Linked DNA regions of Homo sapiens. The protein of the gene in region 7 interacts with the protein of the main gene of each other region in a pairwise test. Each region holds a gene or a part of one and is shown on either strand. Other genes may lie near its edges.

Evidence for each region.
Region 1: the proteins of TFG (region 7) and SPG21 interact in binary tests that used the Homo sapiens proteins (3 or more experiments, as listed by UniProt).
Region 2: the proteins of TFG (region 7) and MAPK1IP1L interact in binary tests that used the Homo sapiens proteins (3 or more experiments, as listed by UniProt).
Region 3: the proteins of TFG (region 7) and CFTR interact in binary tests that used the Homo sapiens proteins (3 or more experiments, as listed by UniProt).
Region 4: the proteins of TFG (region 7) and SPMIP9 interact in binary tests that used the Homo sapiens proteins (3 or more experiments, as listed by UniProt).
Region 5: the proteins of TFG (region 7) and TBX19 interact in binary tests that used the Homo sapiens proteins (3 or more experiments, as listed by UniProt).
Region 6: the proteins of TFG (region 7) and INTS11 interact in binary tests that used the Homo sapiens proteins (3 or more experiments, as listed by UniProt).

What each region holds. Positions count from the first base shown.
Region 1 is NC_000015.10:64,972,915-64,976,414, reverse strand, and holds part of SPG21 (maspardin), read left to right. Parts: intron 1-1,667; coding exon 1,668-1,813; intron 1,814-3,500. UniProt on the Homo sapiens protein: May play a role as a negative regulatory factor in CD4-dependent T-cell activation.
Region 2 is NC_000014.9:55,058,147-55,061,646, forward strand, and holds part of MAPK1IP1L (MAPK-interacting and spindle-stabilizing protein-like), read left to right. Parts: intron 1-3,008; exon of another isoform or gene 3,009-3,025; coding exon of another isoform or gene 3,026-3,027; intron 3,028-3,500.
Region 3 is NC_000007.14:117,483,025-117,486,524, forward strand, and holds part of CFTR (cystic fibrosis transmembrane conductance regulator), read left to right. Parts: intron 1-3,500. UniProt on the Homo sapiens protein: Epithelial ion channel that plays an important role in the regulation of epithelial ion and water transport and fluid homeostasis. Mediates the transport of chloride ions across the cell membrane.
Region 4 is NC_000002.12:88,523,294-88,527,448, forward strand, and holds the start of SPMIP9 (protein SPMIP9), read left to right. Parts: upstream 1-1,355; 5' UTR 1,356-1,489; exon of another isoform or gene 1,490-1,513; intron 1,514-2,116; exon of another isoform or gene 2,117-2,206; intron 2,207-2,341; 5' UTR 2,342-2,351; coding exon 2,352-2,378; intron 2,379-3,111; coding exon 3,112-3,204; intron 3,205-4,155. UniProt on the Homo sapiens protein: Microtubule inner protein (MIP) part of the dynein-decorated doublet microtubules (DMTs) in flagella axoneme.
Region 5 is NC_000001.11:168,304,877-168,308,376, reverse strand, and holds part of TBX19 (T-box transcription factor TBX19), read right to left. Parts: intron 3,370-3,500; coding exon 3,181-3,369; intron 1-3,180. UniProt on the Homo sapiens protein: Transcriptional regulator involved in developmental processes. Can activate POMC gene expression and repress the alpha glycoprotein subunit and thyroid-stimulating hormone beta promoters.
Region 6 is NC_000001.11:1,314,661-1,318,160, reverse strand, and holds part of INTS11 (integrator complex subunit 11), read left to right. Parts: intron 1-2,542; coding exon 2,543-2,641; intron 2,642-2,722; coding exon 2,723-2,757; intron 2,758-3,198; coding exon 3,199-3,337; intron 3,338-3,500.
Region 7 is NC_000003.12:100,726,494-100,729,993, reverse strand, and holds part of TFG (protein TFG), read right to left. Parts: intron 1,283-3,500; coding exon 1,136-1,282; intron 1-1,135. UniProt on the Homo sapiens protein: Plays a role in the normal dynamic function of the endoplasmic reticulum (ER) and its associated microtubules. Required for secretory cargo traffic from the endoplasmic reticulum to the Golgi apparatus.

The DNA.
Region 1 (3,500 bases), on a different chromosome or scaffold from region 7:
CTCACTCTGTCACCCAGGCTGGAGTGCAGTGGCGCGATCTCGGCTCACCGCAACCTCCACCTCCCGGATTCAAGTGATTCTCCTGCCTCAGTCTCCAAAATAGCTGGGATTACAGGCGTGTGCCACCATGCCCGGCTAGTTTTTGTATTTTTAGTAAAGATGGGGTTTCGCCAGGTTGGCCAGGCTGCTCTCAAACTCCTGACCTCAAGTGATCCGCCCGCCTCAGCCTCCCTAAGTGCTGGGATTACAGGCGTGAGCCACCGTGCCGAGCCCTCTTTTATTTTTTAATAATAGCTTTATTGCAACATAATTCATATACCATATAATTTACCCTTTTAAGTATACAGTTCCATGTTTTTCAGTATACTCCCAGGTATGTGCAACCATCACTGCAGTCAATGTTTTATAATTTTTTTAATGCCAAAAACCTCATATTCATTAGCAGTCGGTCCTCATCTTCCCCCCTACTAGCCCTGCAACCTAATTTATTTTTATCTCTATGGATTTGCCTATTCTAGATATTTTACATAAGTGGAATCGTATCATATGTGGTCTTTTTGACTGGCTTTTTTTATTTAGCATTGTGAGTTTAAGGTTCATTCATGTTGAAGCCGGAATCAATACTTCGTTTCTCTTTACAGTTAAATCATATTTTTATAAATATGCCATATCTTGTTTAACGATTCATCAGCTGATGCACATTTGGGTTGTTTTTACCCTTTGGATATCATGAATAATGCTGCCATGAACATTCATGTACAAGTTTTTGTGTTGACATATGTTTTCAGTTCTCTTAGGTATGTGTTTAGGGGTGGAATTACTGAATCACAGTTTTCTTAGACATAAACCACTAAGTGGTTTTGAGTTTTTTCTTTTTTTTTTTTTTTGAGACAGGCTTTCACTTTGTTGCCCAGGCTGGAGTGCGGTGGTGCAATCATGGCTCACTGCAGCCTCAACCTTTTGGGCTCAAGCGATCCTCCCACCTCAACCTCCCAAGTAGCTAGGACTCTAGGCACGTACCACCATGCCTGGCTAATTTTTGTATTTTTAGTATACAGGCCTTTTCCATATTTCCCTAGCTTGGTTTTGTTGGTTTCTTTTTTTCTTTTCTTTTTTTTTTTTTTTTTAAGACGGAGTCTCGCTCTGTTGCCCAGGCTGGAGTGCAGTGGTGCGATCTTGGCTCACTGCAACCTCCGCCTGCCAGGTTCAAGCGATTCTGCTGCCTCAGCCTCCCGAGTAGCTGGGACTACAGGCACGCACCACCATGCCTGGCTAGTTTTTTTGTATTTTTAGTAGAGACGGTTTCACCATGCTGGCTAGGCTGGTCTCGAACTCCTGACCTCGTGATCTGCCTGCCTCGGCCTCCCAAAGTGCTGGGATTACAGGTGTGAGCCACCGTGCCTGGACTGGTTTTGTTTTCTAATGCAATCTGTGAATGATATTTTTTTTAATTATATAACTTGGATGCCAAGTTGTATTATCTTGATGGACTGTATAAATTGCATTTAAATACAATATTTTCTAAATTTCTAGCTGCTGTAAATATTTTAGTCTATTGGCTAGTGATAACATATTCTGTGGTTAGTGATAATTGAAGCAACTTTTTAATACTCAGGTTCAAGATTGATCAGTATTTCAGAATCTGCCTTATATTTGTTTATAATTAGGTTCATCTTTTTGGCGCTTCTTTGGGAGGCTTTTTGGCCCAGAAATTTGCTGAATACACTCACAAATCTCCTAGAGTCCATTCCCTAATCCTCTGCAATTCCTTCAGTGACACCTCTATCTTCAACCAAACTTGGACTGCAAACAGGTAAGAACAAAATTACTTTTTTTGTTCAGTGAAATTTTGAAAATGTTGGCTTTTGAGTGTTTGGTACATTAGGAAGGGAAGACTTATATCTACTTCTATATTCTGCAACTTCCTTGGCTTTTTTTTTGAGACAGAGTCTTGCTCTGTCACCCAGGCTGAAGTGCAGTGGTGCAATCACAGCTTACTGCAGCCTTTATTTCCCAGGCTCAAGCGATCCTCCTACCTCAGCCTCCCAAGTAGCTGGAACTACAGGCAGGCATGCATGGCACCACACCTGGTTAATTTCTGTATATTTTTGTACAGATGAGGTTTTGCCATGTTGTCCCATGCTGGTCTCTAACTCCCGGGCTCAAGCCATCTGCCCACCTTGGCCTCCCAAAGTTCTGGGATTACAGGCATGAGCCACTGTGCCCGGCTCTTTCTTGGCTTTTAAAATTAGAAACAATTACCTTTGCAAAAGGAAAGAATTGAATGAACTCTAAATTCAGCTTTTTTTATTACCTTAAATTTTTAAATTTTGTTTAATATTCATTAATATACTTTTGCTGTTTTTATTCAGTATTTCTATGTAACTAATACCATGTTCTGTTTATCCCACTTATTATTATGTGTAAACAGTTCCGTGTATTGACTGACATAGTTTTATTAGGCATTTGGCTTTTCCCAATTCTTCATCACATTCTACAGTAAATCTTTGTACAAATTACTGGGTTTTTTCCCTTTCCAATTTATTTCCTTGAGATATGTTCTCCAAATGGAAAGAATAGAGCATTTGGTCTGTCAACAGATGTTCTGCACATCATGACCCTTGATATTAGTCTGTTCTTCCAAAAGATAGAAATGGTGGAAATGAGGCTGGGTGCGGTGGCTCACACCTGTAATCCCAGCACTTTGGGAGGCCGAGGCGGCCGGATCACCTGAGGTCGGGAGTTCGAGACCAGCCTGACCAACGTGGAGAAACCCTGTCTACTAAAAATACAAAATTAGCTGGGCAAGGTGGCACATGCCTATAATCCCAGCTACTCAGGAGGCTGAGGCAGGAGAATCACTTGAACCCAGGATGCGGAGGTTGTGGTGAGCCGAGATCACGCCATTGCACTCCAGCCTAGGCAACAGGAGCGAAACTCCATCTCAAAAAAAAAACAAACCAAAAACAAAATGGTGGAAATGCTTTGGGTGCAGCCAGTGGGGTACTTGTTTCCTAGGAGCCATCCTTTCATTGATTTTATCATTTTAAGTAATTGGTAGGTATCTATGATGCCATACAGCTGGCTTACTGTGCACTTCTTTCATTGCTGGCAAGGCGAGGCTCTAGCCTTAAAATAAAGCCCAGTGGCCAGGTGTGATGGCTCATGCCGTACTCCCAACACTTTGGGAGGCCAAGACAGGAGGATCACTTCAGGCCAAGAGTTTGAAACCAGCCTGAGCAACATAGTGAGACCCCATCTCTACAAATAACAATAATAATAAATTAGCCAGGTATCATGGTATGCACCTGCAGTCCTAGCTACTCAGGAGGCTGAGGCAGGAGGATCGCTTGAGCCCAAGAGTTCAAGGCTGCAGTGAGCCACAACTGTGCCTCTGTACTCCAGGCTGGGTGACAGAGCAAGACCCTACTTCAAAAAAAAAGCCCAGTGAGTAAACACATCTGTATGATCAGTGTTTTCAAATAATGTATAGGGAAATA
Region 2 (3,500 bases), on a different chromosome or scaffold from region 7:
ACACATCCATTCATGTGCATCTTTGGGATATGGGAGGAAACTGGAGTACTTGGAGAAGACCCATAAAGATGGGAGAATGAGCCAGCTTCACACAGACAGTGACCTCAGCTGAGACTTTTTGTTTTTTCTTCTCATCAACATTATAACAAAACAAAGTTGAATGAAACGTCTTTCGAGGACCTGCTATAGACTAAAATTTTAAAACCCTGTCCCATATATGAACGAACAATTAGAAAATACAGTAGAAGAAAAGAGCCTATTTACAACCACAGGGAAAAGTTTAACAGAAATCCCTTAAAAGAAATGTATATAGGAGATCTGATCAAGAAAATAAACTACATGAAAAGGACAGGAACTAAACAGTCCTCTGTGTCTGCATTTGCGGGTAGAAAATATTCAGGGAGCCGGGTGCGGTGGCTCATGCCTGTAATCCCAGCACTTTGGGAGGCTGAGGCGGGCGGATCACGTGAGGCCAGGAGTTCAAGAGCAGCCTGGCCAACGTGGTGAAACCCTGTCTCTATTAAAAATACAAAAAATTAGCCGGGCATGGCGGCGCTTGCCTATAATCCCAGTTACTCAGGAGGCTGAGGCAGGAGAATCTCTTGAACCCAGGAGATGGAGGTTGCAGTGAGCTGACATCATGCTATTGCACTCTAGCCTGGGCAACAGAGTGAGACCCTGTCTCAAAAAAAAAAAAATACTTGGGGGAAACAATAAAAATAACCATAGAAAATATAAGTTAATATAATTATATAGTATTCACACTTTTAAGTATTATAAATAATATAGAGATGATTTATACGGGAAGATGTGCATAGGTTATATGCAAATACTACACCATTTTATATCAGGTACTTGAGCATCCTGGGATTTGAGTATCTATGGGGGTCCTAGAACCAATCTCCCTCAGGTACCGAGGGACTATACTATACCTTGTTCTTGAACGAGATGATTTGACATTTTAAATAGATGTTCCCCTAGATTAATCTGTAAATATAATACATTTCCAACCAGAATGCTAACACATTAATTTTTTTTTTTAACGATCTGGAAAAAATAAAAATACATAGGAAAATCTGAAAAAAAAAAAAAAAAAAAAGACAGTAGGGTGACTCACATTAATGTTTATTTAAAATATATTGTAAAGCTTCTGTAATTAAAATGGAATGGTACAGTTGCAGACCAGTAGAAAAGAATAAAGTCAGCTGGGCACAGTATCTCACGCCTGTAATCCCAAGACTTTGGGAGGCCGAGGCAGGCAGATCACTTGAGCTCCGGAGTTCAAGACCAGCCTGGGCAACATGGTGAAACTCCATCTCTACAAAAAAACTAGCTGGGCAGGATCGATTGAGCCCAGAAGGTCGAGTCTGCAGTGAGCTTATGATGGTGCCACTGCACTCTGGCCAGGGAACAAAGCAAGACTGTTTCAAAAAGAAAAGAATAAAGTCCACAATATCTGTGGGAAATGAAGGAGGCTCTATAGCCTGCTTGTTAAGAGCCTAAGTTCTGGAGTCATACTGGGTTTGAACTGCTTCTCTCCTTGTCATTAGCTCTGGGACCTTAAACAAGTTAACTTGCCAAGCTTCCTCTTCTCCAGCTGTAAACTGGGGGTGAAAATAAAATTTGTATCTGGGTTCTGGAGCTACCAAGTGAGGTGGTGCACAGTACACCACCATGTTCCATGTTTCATGGTAAATATTGGATAGATGCTAGTTATAAATGGCAGCAGTATAGTGTAGTAAAGGTAGCTTGTCCAATTAGCTGAGAAAAGATAGATAGTTGATAATTATTGTTTGGAAGAATTTAAAGGTTTTAAACAAGAAGTTAAACCATAAAAATACTATATGAAAGCAAGGCAGAGTAGGGAAGGCCTTTGTAAATATATCACAAAATCCAGAAGCCACGTATAGGAAAACATTGATAGATTTGATGACATGAAATTTAAAACTTTTGTATAACCAAAATATGCCCTTTAAGAGATCTACAGATAAAAGGAATTTTGGAGAAATTTTTTTTTTTTTTTTTTTTTTTTTTTTTTTTTTTGATATGGAGTAGCCCTCCGTTGCCCAGGCTGGAGTGCAGTGGCGCAATCTCGGCTCACTGCAAGCTCCGCCTCCCAGGTTCATGCCATTCTCCTGCCTCAGCCTCCCAAGTAGCTGGGACTACAGGCACCCGCCACCACACTGGGCTAATCGTTTTTTTGTATTTTTAGTAGAGACGGGGTTTCACCGTGTTAGCCAGGATGGTCTCGATCTCTTGACCTCGTGATCCGCCTGCCTCGGCCTCCCAAAGTGCTGGGATTATAGGCGTGAGCCACTGCACCCGGCCAAAAAATTTTAATCTCATATATGAAAGCTAGTCTGCTTAGTATCTTACAAAGCAGTGAGAGAAAAAGATGTGCTACTGAGTAATAAAATGATCAAAGGCAAAGAGTACCTACAGTCTTTTATTTATATAAAGTCAAAGAACAAGCAAAATTAAGTCAAAAATTGACTGCCATGAGGCAAGGTAGTTGATTGGAAAAGAGCATGAGTAAACTTTCTGGAGTGAGAAATGTTCTGTATCTTGGGGTGGTTATAGGGGCGTATACAATTATCAGAGCTTGTTAATCTGAACACTTAAGATCTCTGCATTTTGTTGAGTGCTAATTACACTTCAATTTAAAAATTGGTAAAAGTACTCCAGGACATCAATAAATTTAAATTTGGGAGTACACACAGTGGCTCATGGCTATAATCCCAATACTTTGGGAGGCTGAGGCAGGAGGGTCCTTTGATCCCAGGAGTTTGAGACCGGGTCTGGGCAACATAGTGAGACACCTGTCTCTGCAATAAATTTTTAAAATTTTAAGAAATTTGCTGGGCATGATGGCACACACCTGTAGTACCGGCTATTAGGGAGACTGAGGCAAGAAGATGACTTGAGCCCAGGAGGTCAAGATTGCAGTGAGCTGTGATCTCTCTCGCCACTGCACTCCAGCCTGGGTGACAGAATGAGACCCTGTCTCCAAAAAAAAGACGAGGAAATGTAAGTTAAAATAAGACGCTAATTTTTAATATCTATTGTCATTATAAACAATAAATTTAATAATATCCAGTGGTAAAAGGAGTTAGAGAAATGAGTGTAAATTGGCATGGACTTTTCAAATGGATTTTAGATAAATTTATCTGTTGACTCTAAATTCCATGTCCAGTGCTTTTTCCTGGTGTTAGATTCTCACACACAAACAAAGAAGTGTTGAGAGATGTTCACTGTATCATACTTAAAACAACTTATACTGCTACAAAAAGAAGGTAAATTAAATTGCAAATCATTTTTGTATGATGTGCAGCCATTAAAAGGGATGAAGTTAATAGAGCTGTATGAACTATTATGGAAAACTTTCCTATGTAAAGAAAAACACATTACATAAATAAGATTCCGCTTAAGTAATAATAATGTATGCATAGAAAGTTCCTTAAGGAATATTTAAGAAATGGTGAACACTGATTTTGAAATTT
Region 3 (3,500 bases), on a different chromosome or scaffold from region 7:
AGGATCTAAGGTGGAAATTCAGCAAAGAATCACATAGTCTAAGTCTCGAGTTTAACAGTAAGATAATTTGAGATACTTTTGTAATTATTAAACACAAAGTAATGAGAGATTTTAAAACAAACAAATACACCTGAATTTATATATCAGAATAGGTATGGTGGTTCAAAATAGCTATCTAATAAAAACCACACTCCTATTCTAAACATTTGCCTTTGATCAAAATAATTTTGGGTCTCTTATTATGAAATTGCCTTTCTAAATAATACATAAATTTCTTCTCATAAGTATATATTAGCCACATTATTTTATTGTTATTGTTTTATATTCATAGCTTGCTTTAGATTAAAAATTATATTACCCAGACTGGTCTCTTGGACTTGCTTCCAAGTGACTTTTGACTGTATCACAAAATCAAATTCACTCTGAAAATATAAAGATTTTTCATCATAATTTCCTTTGTTAACAGCCAAGTGCTACCTAATTTTAGGTGTTTTCATTAAAAAAAAATGCATTGCAAACTTTAAAGACAATTCTTTTGTTTGTTTGTTTTTAAAAGACAGAGTCTCACTCTGTTGCCCAGGCTAGAGTGCAGTGACACAATCATAACTCACTGCAACCTCCACCTCCTGGGCTCAAGTGAGCCTTCCATCTTGCCTCACGAGTAGCTGGGTCTTCAGGTGTACAGGTGTGTACCACCATGCCTGGCTAACTTTTTTTTTTTTTAAGTTATATAGAGACAGTATCTCACTATGTTGCCCAGGCTGCTCTTGGAGCTCCTGGCCTCAAGTTATCCTCCCACTCAGTCTCCCAAAGTGCTGGGATTACAGGCGTAAGCCACCTCACCCTGTCAGCCTAAAGACAGTGCTTAATGAAGAGAAATATAAGTGCTTTGAGCAATGGAAGTATAATTAAAATTATACTATGAAAGATTTATAAAGATGACCATTTTGAATGGGACCACACTTATTTGGTTATATAAATTATGATACACTATTAAAAATTCATCATGATGATTTTGTATTTACATTTTATTTACATGTTTGCAATTTGTGAGGAAAGCTAAAATTATGGCTAAGCCATAAATATTTTTGCAGTTTGTTGAGGGTGTTTGTAAAAGTGTTGCCAAGGAAGACCAGTTGGCTACCCAAACAAGGGTTTAGTCTAGGTCTGATCAATACATACACATTATCTCAGGTTTGTCTATCAGAAAAACCTTAGGTTATCCAAATCAAAATAAAATAGATGCATAAAACAAAGGCCAATATGTGTTGAACAATTATATTGTGATATACAACTGCCAAGCATTCCCGATTACCATGACTCCATTTAGTCAGTCCATGGGCAAATGCCATCAATGAGGACAGCCCAGGGTTTCCATATTCTCTCTTGGCTTTACATCCTATAGGAATTGGAGGGGCCCACCTCTGGGATAGGAGCCCTTCTGTCTTGAACAATGTTGTCTGAACACTAACAAATGTTGACTTTCTACACCAGTCCCTCAATAGTCTTTTCTATTTATCCTTTTGCTGACCATGTTTTGTTATTACACAGTTGAGATTTTTCAGCTGGGAATCTGTGTTAATTTTGTATTAATTTTGATTAGCTTAACTCTCAGAGTTCTAAAAGTACCTCCTGTACCTGATATATGACAAAAATTATAATTACATTTATTTATATATAAAATATCTTTGTATATGTAAAATATCTTTGTATATATAATTATATAATTGTTTCTTTTAATTTTGCAAATTTTAAAAAGTTCTCCTTTGTTTTGAAGTTTATTCCTATAGTTTTTTATATGCTAGTTAAATTATTAATCACTTGATTCAAGTAATATTCTTATATACTTATAAGGAATAGTGTAGTTTTAATATTTAATTCCTTGCTAAAGAGAGAAGTGGAATCTATTTTTCTTAGCTACTTCATCAATATTTTATGTTTGATGTGACAGTCAAAATATCCCTCAGAGCTAACTGTTACACTAGGGAAATCACGGTTTTCCAGTTTTCCATTTATGTGTTATGGGAGGGAGTGGAACTTAGTGTAATAATATTCAATACATAAATGTTAACACTTGTTTAAAGGTCCTTGAGTGAGTACTGCTATAAAATGCATTATTATTGCTAGTGTCATTTCACAAGAGCCTATAATTTCAGTGTGATAGAGCTACAATATAAGTATAGTATTGCAAAACCATCAGGAAGGGTGTTAACTATTTAGCATGCAGTTATGTGTTGGTTGTCAAAACGTTAAAAACATCTCTGACTCAGCAGCAATTTTGGCAATTTTGATCCTGAGGCATCTGTGTAGGGCATCTTCCTGGAGAAAAACCTCTGAGATGCAATGAGGTCAAAAGGGGAAAACAGACTATGATAAAGATCAAGTTGTTTGGAGATCTTGTAGAAAGATTAATTTACAAATATGTCAAGTGCATTATCATGGAGGAAAACATTGCTATTTCTGTTGGTTCTCTTCAGAGCTCTAGAATCAATTTACCACATAGTTGTTTCAGTGTGAAATTAGCATTACAGAGTGGCTTTACGGCTTTACTGTAGGGCATTGTGTCAGCAAAGAGCTTAGGCTTCTTTTAGCAAGAAGCTTGTAAAAATTTAATTTACTCTTAGATTGCTTGATGTAGAGAATTACATTCCTACAGAGCTCTGAAAAATCTTTTTTCAGAGTTTTTCACAGCTGTATTCAAGTTGCAAGGCTTGTCAACTTTGCTATTTTTCTGTGCAGCTCTGTTAACTTATTATTATCTTTTGACATAAATTATGATTCCAAATTGTAAAGCTCTGGATGTCAGGGCCTTTTCTAATTTGTTTAGTATGATATTCAGACCATTTCAAGACTCTTCCGTGGAACAATTTAATAAAGATTTTTTTGTGATGTTAATGAGTTCATGGTGATCAACCCTAGAGACCTGTGTCTATTGTAGATCGATGACATTCAACAGTCCTGCAGTGCTGGCATCATTTTGATAAAAAGGGGTCAAAGCAAGTGGGACTGTGGGCAGATTTTTAATGCTTAGAACAATTATTCCATCGAAGTTTTCTTGTGTCCCTTCTGCCTTAGCCTTTGTAGGATAGCATGCTTGCTAATTTCTTGCTCATGGGGTAAGGAAATGAAGATTTTTGCTAGGTCCGTAGGATTATTAGGACTACTCAGGCCTGAAGCTATGCCTGGATATAGCCAGAAAACTCTCCCATAGCTTGCTCCAAGGAGCTGAGATACAGCAGTACTTCCTTTGTAGGTCATGATTCTGGGTAACCTGGAAGATGACCTCATTCATATTCTGTATTCTATGTGAGACGTTAAGAAGGTAGAGGTGGCCAAGAAGGAAATTGTTGCTGCCTTTATGGAACAAATTATCTGAAACCCAGCTTTCTCGAGGGCTTCATTGAAGTACTCAACTGGGGCACTTAACCCAGTCTAAGGCTGGTCAAGGAAGGCTTGCTGGGGGAAGTGTCTTTTGTATTCACACCTAAAGGAGGTTATTC
Region 4 (4,155 bases), on a different chromosome or scaffold from region 7:
TTATATATATAATATATGTAACATATATGTTTAATATTATATATAAAATTAAATATACATATTTGTATATAATTACATAAAATATATAAAATACAAATATATATACAATTTCATATATATAACAAAGTTTATCATTTTAGTCACTTTTAAGTGAATAATTCAGTGGCATTAAGTACATTCACAATGGGCAACCATCACCACCATCCATTCCCAGAACTTTTTTTAATATTCTGAAACAGAAACTTCATATCCATTAAACAGTAACTCCCCATTCCTCTCCTCAGTCTCTGGCAACTATCATTCTACTTTCTGTCTCTATGAATTGTACTTCTCTAGGTACCTCGCAGAAGTGGAATCATGCAGCATTTTTCTTTTTGTGACCGGCTTATTTTGCTTTATTTTGCTTAGCATAATGTCCTCAAGGTTTATCCATGCTGTAGCACGTGTCAGAATTGCCTTCCCTTTTTTTTTTTTTTTTTAATTTTGTTTTGAGACAGAGTGTCGCTCTGTTACACAGGCTGGAGTGCAGTGGTGTGATCTCGGCTCACTGCAACCTCTGCCTCCCGAGTTGAAGCAATTCTTCTGCCTCAGCCTCCCGAGTAGCTGGGACTACAGGCGTGCACCACCACACCCGGCTAATTTTTGTATTTTTAGTAGAGACGGGGTTTCACCATGTTAGTCAGGCTGGTCTGGAACTTCTGACCTCAGGCAAACTGCCTGCCTCGGCCTCCCAAGTTGCTGGGATTACCAGCGTGAGCCACCGTGCCTGGCCTCCCTTTTAAGGCTGAATAATATTCCATTGTACGTAGATACCAAATCCATTCATCTCTGAAGGACATGTAAGTTGTTTCTACCTTTTGACTATTGTGAACCATGCTGTTGTGAACGTTGGTGTACAGGTATCCATTTGAGCCCTTGCTTTCAATTCTTTTTTATTTATAACTAGAAGTGGAATTTCTCCACATCCTCATCAACGCTTGTTTCTGTATTTTTTTTTTATTGTAGCCACACACTATGAATGTCAAAAAGTGACATTTTGACAATTTTGAGCCAGGCTTTCAGGCAGCAGAGGCCTGGGTGGCAGTCTGTGGTGTGAAGTGGATTTAGTCACACACAGTCTGATGTTGTAAACCACATGGGCTCTATTTACCTTCCTCTCCTAGGACTAGGAAGATTCTGTAGAGTATCGGAAAGCATTGGTTCATGTGCTGCCAGGATTCATGTTGGCTCTGGTGAGCCAGGGACAGGGAACTGACCTGCAGGCAGCCCAAGCAGCCACCTACTCACCTCACAATGACAGGGACCCTCATCATACAGGTCAGGGCTCAACTCAAAGACAGGCGTGGCAGTGGGACACAGCAACAGGACTCTCCATGTGGCAAGGGCACCTGGAGGTGGGAGGGCAGGAGCGTCGTCTTGCCCTGGCAGAAGAAGCGGTAGGCTCTGTCTGCGTGGCAGCTGGTCCCCAGCCCTAGGAGAGAAGCTGTCTGTGAGCAAAAGGGAGGGGATACAGGTGTTGGTTGAGGTCTGGGCACCACCCTGCTGGGCCACAGTCTGCTGAAGAGAGTGGGGCTTAGGGGAGGGTTCCCTGGGAATGCAGTGGAGTACCCCTTAAGGATCTAGGGGCCACGCACACAAGGAGTCTGTGCAGCGAGGCCCTCGCTAGGACTTCAGGGCTGGAAGGGAGGGGTCAGTGTTAGGCCTACAAACTACTGTTGTTCAACTGGGAATGCAGAGTCTTGCAACTTTCTTCACCTTGGATACTCCCCTGTGAATCAAGGTGGCTCTGAGTCCTAGGCCTGGGCCTTCCTCTATCCAGGGGAAGTGCTGAGGCCTGGTTCAGAGGAACATGTGAGCTGGAGCCAGTTCATACTGGCTCACAAGAGCCCATCCTGTGCATATCTGTGCAACTCAGTGCCAATGACATTATGTTGATAGCCTGAAATGAGCCATGATAGGAGCATTTACACCACAGAAATTGGCAGATGCTATAAACCCAGGGCCTATTTTCCCTGAAAACATGGTTGTTAAACATTTACCAGCACTTCACTTGCCCTAGGATCAGCTATACCTCTCAAACAGTAAACCTGATCAGTAAATGTGATCTTCTAAACAGCCCTCATTCCTCCTGAGTCCTGCTCCAGCCCCTTTGTCCCAGGGACCCTGGTATCACCACCAACCCCTTGATGATGGAGTGACATGCAGGGTAGGAGCCCAGGGAAGATGGGGAGGAGTGGGCTAAGAAAGCTGGGGCAGCCATGCTTGGTTGGCACAGCTTGAAGATAGTGGCTACTTTCCTTGTCTGTGGCAGAGCAGGGCTAAACAACTTGTCTGTGTCTAGGTCGTTTGCCATGGCAGGTGTGAAATACCCGGGACAGGTGAGTGATGTGGGTTTCTGTCCCCTGTGACGGTCTCAGGGTTGGGTAGCCTCAGCAAGGCCCTGGAAGGGCCAGGCTCTTTCTAGAAGCTCATCTTTCTGTAATGATAGTTTTGGGTTTTGTGGGTTTTTTTTTTTTTTGGTACAAGAAGAAGAAGAGAACTGAGTTTTCTTCTTTATAATTTTCTGGGGGTTCAGTTATTTACTCAGCATGCACTTATTAGGCACCCACAGTGTGCCAGGCCCTGTCCTGGGCTTTGGGACTGCAGAGATGTCTAAGTACACTAAACCTGCTCTAGTGTACTTCATTAAATCCATCACAGTACACCCTGCAAGTGCTGTTGTGGAGGGTTGTAAGGAACAAGGAAAGGGTTTAACTCTTGGGAGGTGGAGAATAAAAGGGTGGGAGAGATGTTTTGGGGAAGTGACATTTAGTCTGGGTCTTGGAGGATAGGTAGGAGTTTGCTAGTCTGTGAGGAGGGCAACTTGCATTTCCATCAGGAGATAGGAAAGAGCACATGCCAGGCCCATGCAAGTGGGAGGAAGTAAGGCTGGAGTAGAGAAGGCAGGAAGGTGGCGGGATGGTAAAAATGGGTCACAGCCAGATCATTTGGGCTCTGAATGTCAGGCCCCAAAGTCGGCCTTTGTCCTACAAACAGCAAGAAGCCATTGAATGGCTTTAAGTGGAGGAGTGACGAGGGAATCTCTTGTTTTATATTCTCCTTGTGCTTTAGGACCCTGTGGATTTAGACATATACCAAAGCTCCCACATGGTCGACTATCAGCCCTACAGGAAGCACAAATACTCCAGGGTCACGCCGCAAGAGGTAGGAAGGCACGCAAGTCCTGTCATTCAATCAACTGCCTACTGAAATCCTCTCTGTTGCTTCATTTGTATTACAAATGTGGACATTTGGGCCCTTGTTAGAACAATATCCAATGCCAGGAGATATGACTTAGAGATCTTTTCTGTGCATGTGCATGTATGTGTGTGTATTTTTTTTTTCTTTTTGAGAAGGAGTCTTACTCTGTCACCCAGGCTGGAGTGCAGTGGCGCGATCTCGGCTCACTACAACCTCTGCCGCCTGCCTGGATTCAAGCGATTCTCCTGCCTCAACTTCCTGAGTAGCTGGGATTACAGGTGCCTGCCACTGCGTCAGCTAATTTTTGTATTTTTAGTAGAGATGGGATTTCACCATCCTGGCCAGGCTGATCTTGAACTCCTGACCTCGTGATCCACCTGCCTCGGCCTCCCAAAGTGCTAGAATTACAGGCGTGAGCCACCGTGGCCGGCCATGTGTGTATGTTTTCAAATGTACATCAAATACGTCATGCATACAAAAAATTGTAAATAATACACATTTAGAGTTAAAATTACACTGATAAACACCGATGTAACCATTACAGACCGCTTAAAACATGGCACATTAACATTAGCAGTACCTTGTAGCCTCTTGGTAACCCGCAAACTTACCCCTCCTCCCATCTCCAGAAGTGGTTAATCATTCCCTTGTAGGCCAGGCACAGTGGCTCACACCTGGAATCCCAGCATTTTGGGAGGCAGAGGCGGCCAGGAGTTGAGACCAGGGGTTTGAGACCAGGAGTTTGAGGCCAGCAGTTCGAGACCAGCCTGGCTGACATGGCGAAATCCCGTCTCTATAAAAAATACAAAAATTAGCCTGGCTTGTTGGTGCACGCTTGTATTTTCAGCTGCGTGGAAGGCTGAGACATGAGAATTGCTTGAACCTGGGAGGTGGGGCGAGACTCTATCCCCCCCA
Region 5 (3,500 bases), on a different chromosome or scaffold from region 7:
GCCACCAGTGCCCCAGATGAGATTTCTGAGGTCCAGGAACTTATTCTTCTCGGCCATCCCTGAGTAGGTTTAAATATCTCAAGCACAGTGCCTTTTGGCCCGGCATGGTGCCCACACCTGTAATCCTGGCACTTTGGGAGTCCAAGGCAGGGGAATCCCTTGAGCCCAGGAATTTGAGACCTCTCTGGGCAACACAGAGAGACACCATCTCTACAATTAAAAAAAAAAAAAATTAAGAAAAAAACATACCTTTTTACAAAAAGAAGAACATAATATGATCTCACTTATATGTGGACTCTAAGAAAGTTGAATACATAGAAGCTGAGAGTACAACAGTGGTTACCAGGGGTGGGAAGCTGGGGAAATGAGATATTGGTCAAAGGATATAAAGTTGCACTTGTGTAGGATGAATAAGTCTAGAGATCTAACTTACAATCTGAAGACTATAGTTAATAATATTGTACTGTGTACTGGAAATTTGCTAAGAGAATAGATTTCAGGTGCTCTCATCATGAAAAAAAGTAACTATGTGAGGAGATGGACATGTTAATTTGCTTGACAGCAGTAATCACTTCACTATGCATATGTATATCAAAACGTCATGTTGTACACCTTGAATATATACAGTTTTTATGGGGGTGGGGGAAGAATGTCTTCCATTTCTTTGAATCTCTATTTGCATAAATAGTATACAAATAAGAGAGAGGAAGAAGGCAGAGGGAGGGAGGAAGGAAGGGAAAAGGGGGAGAAGGGAGAGAGAGAAGGAAGATTCCAACGTCTATCTCTGGTGCTATGGTTTGAATGTGTCCCCCAAGGTTCATGTGTTGGGAACTTAATTCCCAATGCAAGAGTGTTGAGAGGTGGGGCCTTTAAGAGGTGACTAGGCCATGGGGGCTCTACCCTCAGGAATAGGCTAATGTCAGTATTGCAGGAATGGGTTTCTGATAAAAGGATGGGTTTAGCCTCCTGCCCTCTCCCCCTCTTTCCCCCACCATCCATGTGATGCCTTTCGCAATGTTATGATACAGCCAAAAAACCCTTACCATATGCTGGCACCTTAATCTTAAACTCCCCAGCCTCCAGGACTATGAGAAAATAAAGGTCTATTGCTTATAAATTACCCAATCTCAAGTATTTTGTTATAGCGCCACAAAGGGGACTAAGACACCTGGCCATGTCTCTTCTTTTTACGATCTGGCACTTCCAAGCTCTCCAGCCCTAACTCTTACATCTTCCATCTGTCCCCACTCCCCCTACACTCTGCTCCAAAGCTGTTCCCAGACAACCTAGGGTCTTTCCCCTTTCTGTATCTTTGCTCAGCCCACTCTCTCTACCTGGAATGCCCTGCACCTCTGCCTTTGGCACATGTCATCCTCCACCTTTTACCCCTGCCCACTCCCACTCTGTCCTTTTCTATTCATCTTTCAAGGCTCCATTTAAATGTTAACCCCTCTGGGCAGCCTTTGCTCCTCCACCAGGCATATCTAGCTGCTCTTTTTCCTTCATTCACATGGCACCCTGACTTATGTGTTTTATAGACTGTTTCTCAAATTCTAGAGCGCTTATGAATCCCCTGGTGATCTTGTTAAAATGCAGACCCTGACTCAGGAGTAGAGCCTGAAAGTCTACATTTCTAACAAGTTCCCAGGTGATGTTTCTGCATTACATTAGGATTCATTATTTACGTATTTGTGTAACCCCGAGCTCCTCCAGGGAAGAAGCTATATCTTTTTTTTTTTTTTTTTTTTTTGAGATGGCGTCTTGCTCTTGTTGCCCAGGCTAGAGTGCAGTGGCACAATCTTGGCTCACTGCAGCCTCTGCCTCCCGGATTCAAGCAATTCTCCTGCCTCAGCCTCCCAAGTAGCTGGGATTACAGGCGCCAACGACCACGCCTGGCTAGTTTTTGTATTTTTAGTAGAGACGGGGTTTCGCCATGTTGGCCAGGCTACTCTCGAACTCCTGATCTTGTGATCCGCCCGCCTCAGCCTCCCAAAGTGCTGGGATTACAGGCGTGAACCACCGCTCCCGGCCCTGAAACTATGTCTTAATCACTTTCCTATCCCACTGCCTAGAAGAACACGGTACACAGTAGGTGCTCAGAAGATGTGATTTGATGCTGACCGCAGGAAAGAATGAGGAAGTAGAGTGAGCCACTGCTCAGTTTCTGCTATTGGTAAGCTACATAATCTCCCCACCTGGCAGCAACTGTTGAGGTTGCCAAGAATAGCAGGCTAAGGGACACAGGGACAGGTAGCTGGTGACCAGGAGGACCCTCTACAAATGCAGAGCTCAGGGTGTCACTGAGGAAGGAAGGAGGCTGGAATCCAAATACTCTCCACTGTCTCCCATGCCATGAACTTTACTTGTTTTATTGTCAATCTTTTCATATTAGTATAGAATCTCCGTAAGGGCAGGGCATTTGTCCATTTCATTCCTGTGCTTGAAACAGAGCCTGGCATATAGTCGATCCTCAATAAATATTTGTTGCATGAATAATTTAATGAAAAAGTAACCATTGTTTTCATTTCTCCCTTCTTTCTACAAATCTAATAATCAGGCAAGGTCTGGGCCTACATAAGGCAAAGGTGGAAAAGGCAATAGTCAATGAGAAAAAAGCACACAAACAATACTGCTAACTTAAAACAAACAGACAGCAAAAATTATTTTAAAATACTAAGGTTGGGTTTGCATGTCTCCAACTGAATCAGACTAAGGCCTGAACATATAGGGATCCAGCTTCCCAGAGACCTTCCTAATAATTCCCTAATGCTAGACCCAGTATTCCCTGAACTGAGCCATGAATGCAACTATAGAAAAGAGCCATGCGAAGGTGATGAGCTGAGTGTTTCAGACCCACACAACTTGACATGGCTTTTAGAGATCTGCCTGAACTGCTCAGAATATCAGTGTCCTGGCCTTTCACGCTCATTAGAAACCAGGAGACTGGGGGTTTTATGAAATAATTTTTTTAAAAAAAACTAAGATTGTTATACCTAGTTAATCAAATATTTGTACATAAAATAACAATAAAATAAAACACAAAAACAATCATATCATAGATGTATATTAGATGACGGGGTTCCATCTTTAGCTACTCCTTTTCCTAGCTGTTTATCCATTTCTCCTGACTGCCCCCACCCCAGCCCATACCCCAAGGGTTTAATCAGCAGAGTCACAGACCTGAGGGAGAATGGTTTCTGTGCATGTACGCAGAAGGGTAGGGAGCCTGCCGGTGTCCTCGGAGACCCGAATAGTGCTCACAGCCATGGTGGGTGTGGGGAGCAGGCAGAGGCAGAGGAGCGGCATACTGGTAATTGGAGTTTCCTGCTGTGCACACTCCATCTGGATTGGAAAAGATCCAGCCTCCCACTAAAATAGACAAGAGGAATACACCAAGACTGAGTCTGTGAACTCCCACACCAAAAATCAGGTGACCAGCTACTTTACACAGCTACAATTCTTGTAAATGACACTGATGCCAGCCTGTGTGATGGTGCCAG
Region 6 (3,500 bases), on a different chromosome or scaffold from region 7:
CGGTGGCTCACGCCTGTAATCCCAGCACTTTGGGAGGCCGAGACAGGCGGATCACGAGGTCAGGAGATCGAGACCATCCTGGCTAACACGGTGAAACCCTGTCTCTACTAAACAAAATACAAAAAAATTAGCTGGGCGTGGTGCGGGCGCCTGCAGTCCCAGCTACTCGGGAGGCTGAAAGGCAGGAGAATGGCGTGAACCTGGGAGGCGGAGCTTGCAGTGAGCCAAGATCCCACCACTGCACTCCAGCCTGGGAGACAGAGCGAGACGCGAGACTCCGGCTCAAAAAAAAAAAATTTATTTGCCTGCAAATGGATTTACTTTATCCTCGTTCTTAAAGGACTTTTTTTCCCTTAGGTGTGTAAGATTTTAGGTTGACAGTATTTTGTCTCTGCACTTTGCAAACAACGTTCTGTCTCTGGGCATGGGCAGCCGTAGGGTCTGAGCAGGAGCCTTGGTTTTTGGTGCTTGTGCTCTGATGGGCTGACATGTATCCTCAGCCTGTTTAGAGTTTGAGGCCTCTTGGATCTGTGGCTTGAGGCCTTCATCATGTTTCTTCCAGTGTTGTTTCTGCCCCGTTCCTGCTCCTCCAGGGACCCCGAGAGCCTGACGTTCAACCTCTTGAAACTCCGTCATCTGTTTGTCTTTCCTGTTTCCTGATGGATATTCCCTCTGGTGTCTTTCAGTTCATGGATTCTCTTCTGGTTATGTGTCATATGGTGTTAAATTCATCTGTTGAATTCTTTTTTTTTTTCTTTTTTTTTTGAGATGGAGTTTCGCTCTCATTGCCCAGGCTGTAGTGCAGTGGTGCGATCTCAGCTCACCTTGAACCTCCGCCTTCTGGGTTCAAGCGATTCTCCTGCCTCAGCCTCCCGAGTAGCTGGGATTACAGGCGTGTGCCACCACACCCAGTTAATTTTGTATTTTTTTTTAGTAGAGACGGGGGTTTCACCATGTTGGTCAGGCTGGTCTTGAACTCCTGATCTCAGGTGATCCACCCGCCTTGGTCTCCCAGAGTGCTGGGATTACAAGAGTGAGCCACTGCGCCTGGCCAAAATTTTGTTTTTAAATTAGCCTGGCGTGGTGGGTGCGTGCCTATAGTCCCAGCTATTTGGGAGGCGGAGGTGGAGGCGGGAGGACGCTTGAGCCCAGGAGTTTGAGTGAGCCATGATTGCGCCACTGCAGCCTGGGTGACAGCCCCACCCTGTCTCTCAATTTTATTTATTTATTTTTTTTTGAGACACAGTCTCGCTCTGTCGCCCAGGCTGGAGTGCAGTGGCGCGATCTCGGCTTACTGCAACCTCCGCCTCCCGGGTTCAAGCAGTTCTCCTGCCTCAGCCTCCCGAGTAGCTGGGATTACAGGCGCACACCACCACATCCGGCTAATTTTGTATTTTTAGTAGAGACGGGCTTTTTCCGTGTTGGTCAGGCTGGTCTTGAATTCCCAACCTCAGGTGATCCACCCGCCTCAGCCTCCCAAAGTGCTGGGATTACAGGCATGAGCCACCGCACCCGGCAAGTTTTAAATGAATAAATTAAATTTAAAAGAAGTCTAGTTTTTTGCCAATTTTTGTTTTTGACACTCTCGCTCTTGTTGCCCAGGCTGGAGTGCAATGGCACAATCTCAGCTCACTGCAATCTCCGCCTCCCGGGTTCAAGTAATTCTGCCTTAGCCTACTGAGTAGCTGGGATTACAAGCACCCACCACCATGCCCAGCTAACTTTTGTATTTTTAGTAGAGACAGGGTTTCACCGTGTCGGCCAGGATGGTCTTGAACTCCTGACTTCAGATGATCTGCCCACCTTGGTCTCCCCAAGTGCTGGGATTAAAGGTGTGAGCCACTGTGCCCAGCCCAGTATTTTTTTGTTTGTTTTTACCGAGATGGAGTCCCGCCCCATTGCCCAGGCTAGAGTGCAGTGGCGTGATCTCAGTACACTGCAACCTCCACTTCCCAGGTTCAAGCGATTCTCCTGCCTCAGCCTCCTGAGCAGTTGGGATTACAGGCACGCACTTCCACACCTGGCTTACTTTTGTATTTTTAGTAGAGACGGGGTTTCACCATGTTGGCCAGGCTGGTCTCCAATTCCTGACCCCAAGGGATCCACCTTAGGCCTGGCCGCCAACATTCTGAACCTTGTCTTTTCTCTGTCATGTATTCAAAGTCCACGCTGGAAACTCCAATTTCAGGTCCCTTCAGTTTTTTGTCCGTTGTCTTTCGTTCTTTGTCCACGTTGCCCGTCCCTTGTGAACTGGATGCTGTGTGTGAGCAACAGGGACTGAAAAGCTCAGTGCAGTGCCCTCGCTCCCCGCCCCGCCTCCCTCCCTGCCCCCGCCCCCCTCACTCCCTGCCCCTGCCTCCCTCGCTGCCCGCCTCCCTCCCTCCCTCCCCGCCCCCACCTCCCTCGCTCCCGCCCCCGCCCCCTCGCTCCCCTTCCCCCACGCTCCCCACCCCCGCCTCCCGCGCTTCCCGTCCCCCGCCTCCCTCACTCCCCGCCCCTCTGCTGTGAGGACACAGCCTGAGCGCAGCCCTGTCCTCCACAGGTAGATGATGAGCTGGAGATCAAGGCCTACTATGCAGGCCACGTGCTGGGGGCAGCCATGTTCCAGATTAAAGTGGGCTCAGAGTCTGTGGTCTACACGGTCAGTGGAAGGGCTTGAGGCTTGGGAGGGGCTGCTGGGGTGGGAGGCACCCTCCTCATGGCATCCTTGATCGTTCACCAGGGTGATTATAACATGACCCCAGACCGACACTTAGGGTAAGTAGGCTGAGGTGTCTTTTTGTCCCGTGGGCCCCCCTGGAGCTCAGGACCCTTGCAGGTGTCAGGGTGCCAGCCCTTGAGTGGCCAGCCTGGCAGTGTCTCCCATGTCCTGTGCGGCCTGGAGAGCCCCCTTCGTTCTGGGCCCAAATGCGCGAAGGCACAGGGTCCAGGCAGGGGCCTCTGTCCCTCCTTCTCTCTCTTCCCAAGTCTCTGGGTGGGTGCCTCTGTCTCGCTCTTCCGAAGTGTCTGGGTGGGTGCCTCTGTCTCTCCTCTCTCTTCCCAAGTGTGCTGCCCACAGCATTTTACCAGCTGGCTCTTTCCAGCCAGAGTGACCTAGGAAGGCGGCTGGGCGTGGTACTGGGGTCCAGCTTGTCACACCCAGCCCTGCAACCGTGGGGACAGTGCATCGTGGCTCACACCCCCACCCCCGTGTTCCAGAGCTGCCTGGATTGACAAGTGCCGCCCCAACCTGCTCATCACAGAGTCCACGTACGCCACGACCATCCGTGACTCCAAGCGCTGCCGGGAGCGAGACTTCCTGAAGAAAGTCCACGAGACCGTGGAGCGTGGTGGGAAGGTAGCTGCAGCAGGGGTGGGGACATGGGCCCTCGGCCATGCTGGGCTGGTCTTTCTGGCAGGCTTGGCTGCCCTTGGCATGGGTCAGGGTCTCAGGGTGGGGGGTACTGCATTTTCAGGCAGGGAGGGAAGAAGATTTGCTCAACATTGAGGAGGAAAACTCA
Region 7 (3,500 bases):
TTCATCATAAAGTGACCAAGAGGATCTCATTATAGTATTCAGCAAATCTCCATTATGTTCTGAAATAGAAGTGCAACTAGGAATAATCAATCACCAAATATTTATTAAACATCTATCATTAACATAATTCCATATGACTATTAGAAGACAGGAAGAGAGAAATGATGGAAAATACATCTTTATTTAAACTGTAACTAAAATAAAAATAGAAAACAAAAACTTCCAAAATATTTAGTGGCCAAAAATAGAATACATACCATTTATCCACAAAAATTATCTCATGTTAAGCCCTTTATATGCAGTCATCCAGTCTAGACTTTTTTTAAATTACTATTTCACAATATGGACAGTTTTAAACTATGAAAATTATAAGCAAACAAAGAATTTGTAAAAAGAAAAAAATAATAATAAGAGTTTTCTTTAAATGCAACATCTAAGAATCTTAAAAGAAGAAAGCAGTTTTTTAACTGTACTTTCAAGTCATTAACACATACTTAAAGTTCAGTCCACATTTTAAAATACATTCGGTCCCAAAATTATGTCAGTTCCAAATGTTGACACATTTTGCTTTATCTTAACACAAACAGTACATGTCATTATACAATGGGGAAAAAATTAGTTTTTCTTTAATTATTATTAAAAACTGTGTTTCAAATTTACAACATACCATTTTTAATGAACATTACTAATCTAAGTGATTTTTAGTTGAAAATACTTCCAACACTATGTAATTATTCATGAAATGATTTTCAATTCCCAAGGTTCATTACTTATCTATTATACTAAAAAGGGTTCATGTGTCAAAAGGATTTGAAAACTGACCTGTGTAACAAATCCAAAAGTCTAAGACTAGTTGCGAAAGAATCACCCAAAAAACACTTTAAAAATGGGATTTCCAGGTGCTACGCTCCAGTAGGTCTATGATGAGATCCAGAAATTGGTATAATGAAACCTCCTAGTAATTCTGATGAACAGCAAAGTTTAGGAACACAGACATAAATACTAGTAGAGAGGCAGAGGAAGAAACAAGAGTGACATTGGGGATGCCATCCTTCTCCTACTTAAAAAGAGTTTTTTAAAACCTCCAAAAAGACGTAAGAACAATAAGTCAGAATACAATGGATTCAGGGTTTACCATTTTCAGGAATATTGGTGGAAGGTCCTGGTTCTCCAGGTGGTTCCAAGCTATCCAATAAACGATTCACTTTATTTCGAAGTTCTATCAGTTCTCGACGGAGATATTTCACCTGACTTGATTCAAGGGGTCTTGGCTGGCCATTAACTGAAATAAAAACATTTATTTGCTTAAAATTAGAAGTTCATGAATAAGTATACTAATAATATGCAACAAGGAAAAATAAATACAATTCCTTTAAAAAAACAAAAACAAGATATCAATGTAATGGAGTAACTTTTTTTTTAAAAAAAAAGAATTCTCTATGGCTAATAACTTATTTTGGAAAAAAAGCAGAATTATCAGTCTTTCTTGATGCCATACCTATAGCCTATGACCTTACTGGTAAAAAGGTTTGGTAGGAAAATCCGAGCTCTACTTTTTAATAGAAATGATTAAATTTAATAAAAATCATAACTTCAAAAGCTCACTTTATTTCATGCTGTTCTTAAATATTTATTAAATTTAATAGAAATTATTAAATTTAATAAAAATTATATAACTTAAAAAGCTCATTTTATTTCACGCTATTCTTAAAATAATACAAAAATACCTTACTCTATACATGTTTAAAGATATAACATGACTGATAGGTCTGTTATCCCTCTTGCATAACTTTGTCTTGAAAAAAAACAGCTAACTAAAATAGCTGATCTTAAAAGAAATCGTTAAAAAAATATATGCAGGGCCAGGCATGGTGGCTCACACCTGTAATCCCACCACTTTGGGAAGCCAAGGAGGGAGAACTGCTTGAGCCCAGGAGTTCAAGAAAAACCTGAGCAATACAGTGAGACTTCATCTCTACAAAAACCTTAAAAAATTAGCCAAGTGTGGCAGCACATGCCTGCAGTCCCAGCTACTCAGGAGGCTGGGGTGGGAGGATTGCTTGATCCCGGGAGGGGAAGTCCAGTTGGCTGAGATCACTCCACTGCACTCCAGCCTGGATGACAGAGGGAGACCTTGTCTCAAAAAATTTTAAAAAATAAATATAAATTTAAAAATATATGCAGAACTTATCTACATCATGACTGTCCTTCAAAGCAGTTACTTCCAGAAACAGTATATAAGCCACAAAATGCCAGAGATTACTCGGTAATCTCTAGTTGTGATTTTTTAATGAAAGCAACATTACTTCACTTATTATTCATTTTGTCCAAATGATTTTCAGTTGACTGAAAAAAATGAAATCCTTCATTCAGCAACAAACACTGTCACCACTCAGGTTATTTTTAAAAAGAAAGTGACACAAGGCTCTGATTGCAAACCCCAAGACAGGCGTTCAAAAATTAAACTAAAATGCTTTGCACATTGCCAGTATACATACATACAAACTCCTGAAGCACCTAATTAGAAAAGGACATCTACGTGAAAATAAAAGTTCAGGGCGATTCTTTGTTAAACATGTTTCAAAATCAAACCACCAATTATAAGCTTTTAGAAGAAAACTCACAGTAATTCACATACTCCCTGCATAGCTATGAAGTTCAATACAATCTCCTACCTACATCAATTATTGGTTTTCACTTGGTATTACTGTTTTTTCTCCAATATTTGATGAGAAAAACAGCTCCTAGCAGCCAGAAACTGGTCTGGTACAGTAAGACAGGCCTTAGTGTTGCTGGAAGCTGGCCTGGCACTCACAGGTAGGCTGTGGTGTTCTCCCGTTGAATATAAATATTTCAAAGAACACCAACATCACACAAGACTATAATCTGTGATAGATCAACAGTCCATAACCATGTCAAAACTCCAGACAAAAACAAGAACACTGACCACACCAGAAAAATGACCAAACAACCTTTTATCCTGGCTAATATGAGTAACTGCTACTACTTTACCAACTGCAGCTTTAGCCTCAATTCATTCCTCTCACCTTCCAGATAAGATTTAGTAAGATTCATTCCTCTCACCTTCTAGATAAGATTTGATAAGATACCCAAACATAGAATCATCTCTACTTCCTGAGAGCATCCAATGCAGAGCAAAGCTCTACTTCCTTGAACCTTATCCAAAATCAGGTAACACAAACCCAAGCCCAAAAAAAAATACTTTTCTAACATACTTGTAAGACATCCTATTGTTCTCCGTGGTATTCATTCTCCCTTGCTGCAGTAAGTCAGTAAACCCAACTTCATTCAACTACAGGTGTGTTCCTGGTGGTCTTTGGAGCACACTGATACATCTTACCAGAACTTTTAAGAACCTTGCATTTACATTCCTAGTATGGCCTATAATCTGTTATTATCTACTCAGTGGGTTTAAGAGCACTAAGCTCCAAATTATACTCAATTAAAAGTTTAAATTAGCTAAGTTTAAATTAATTAAG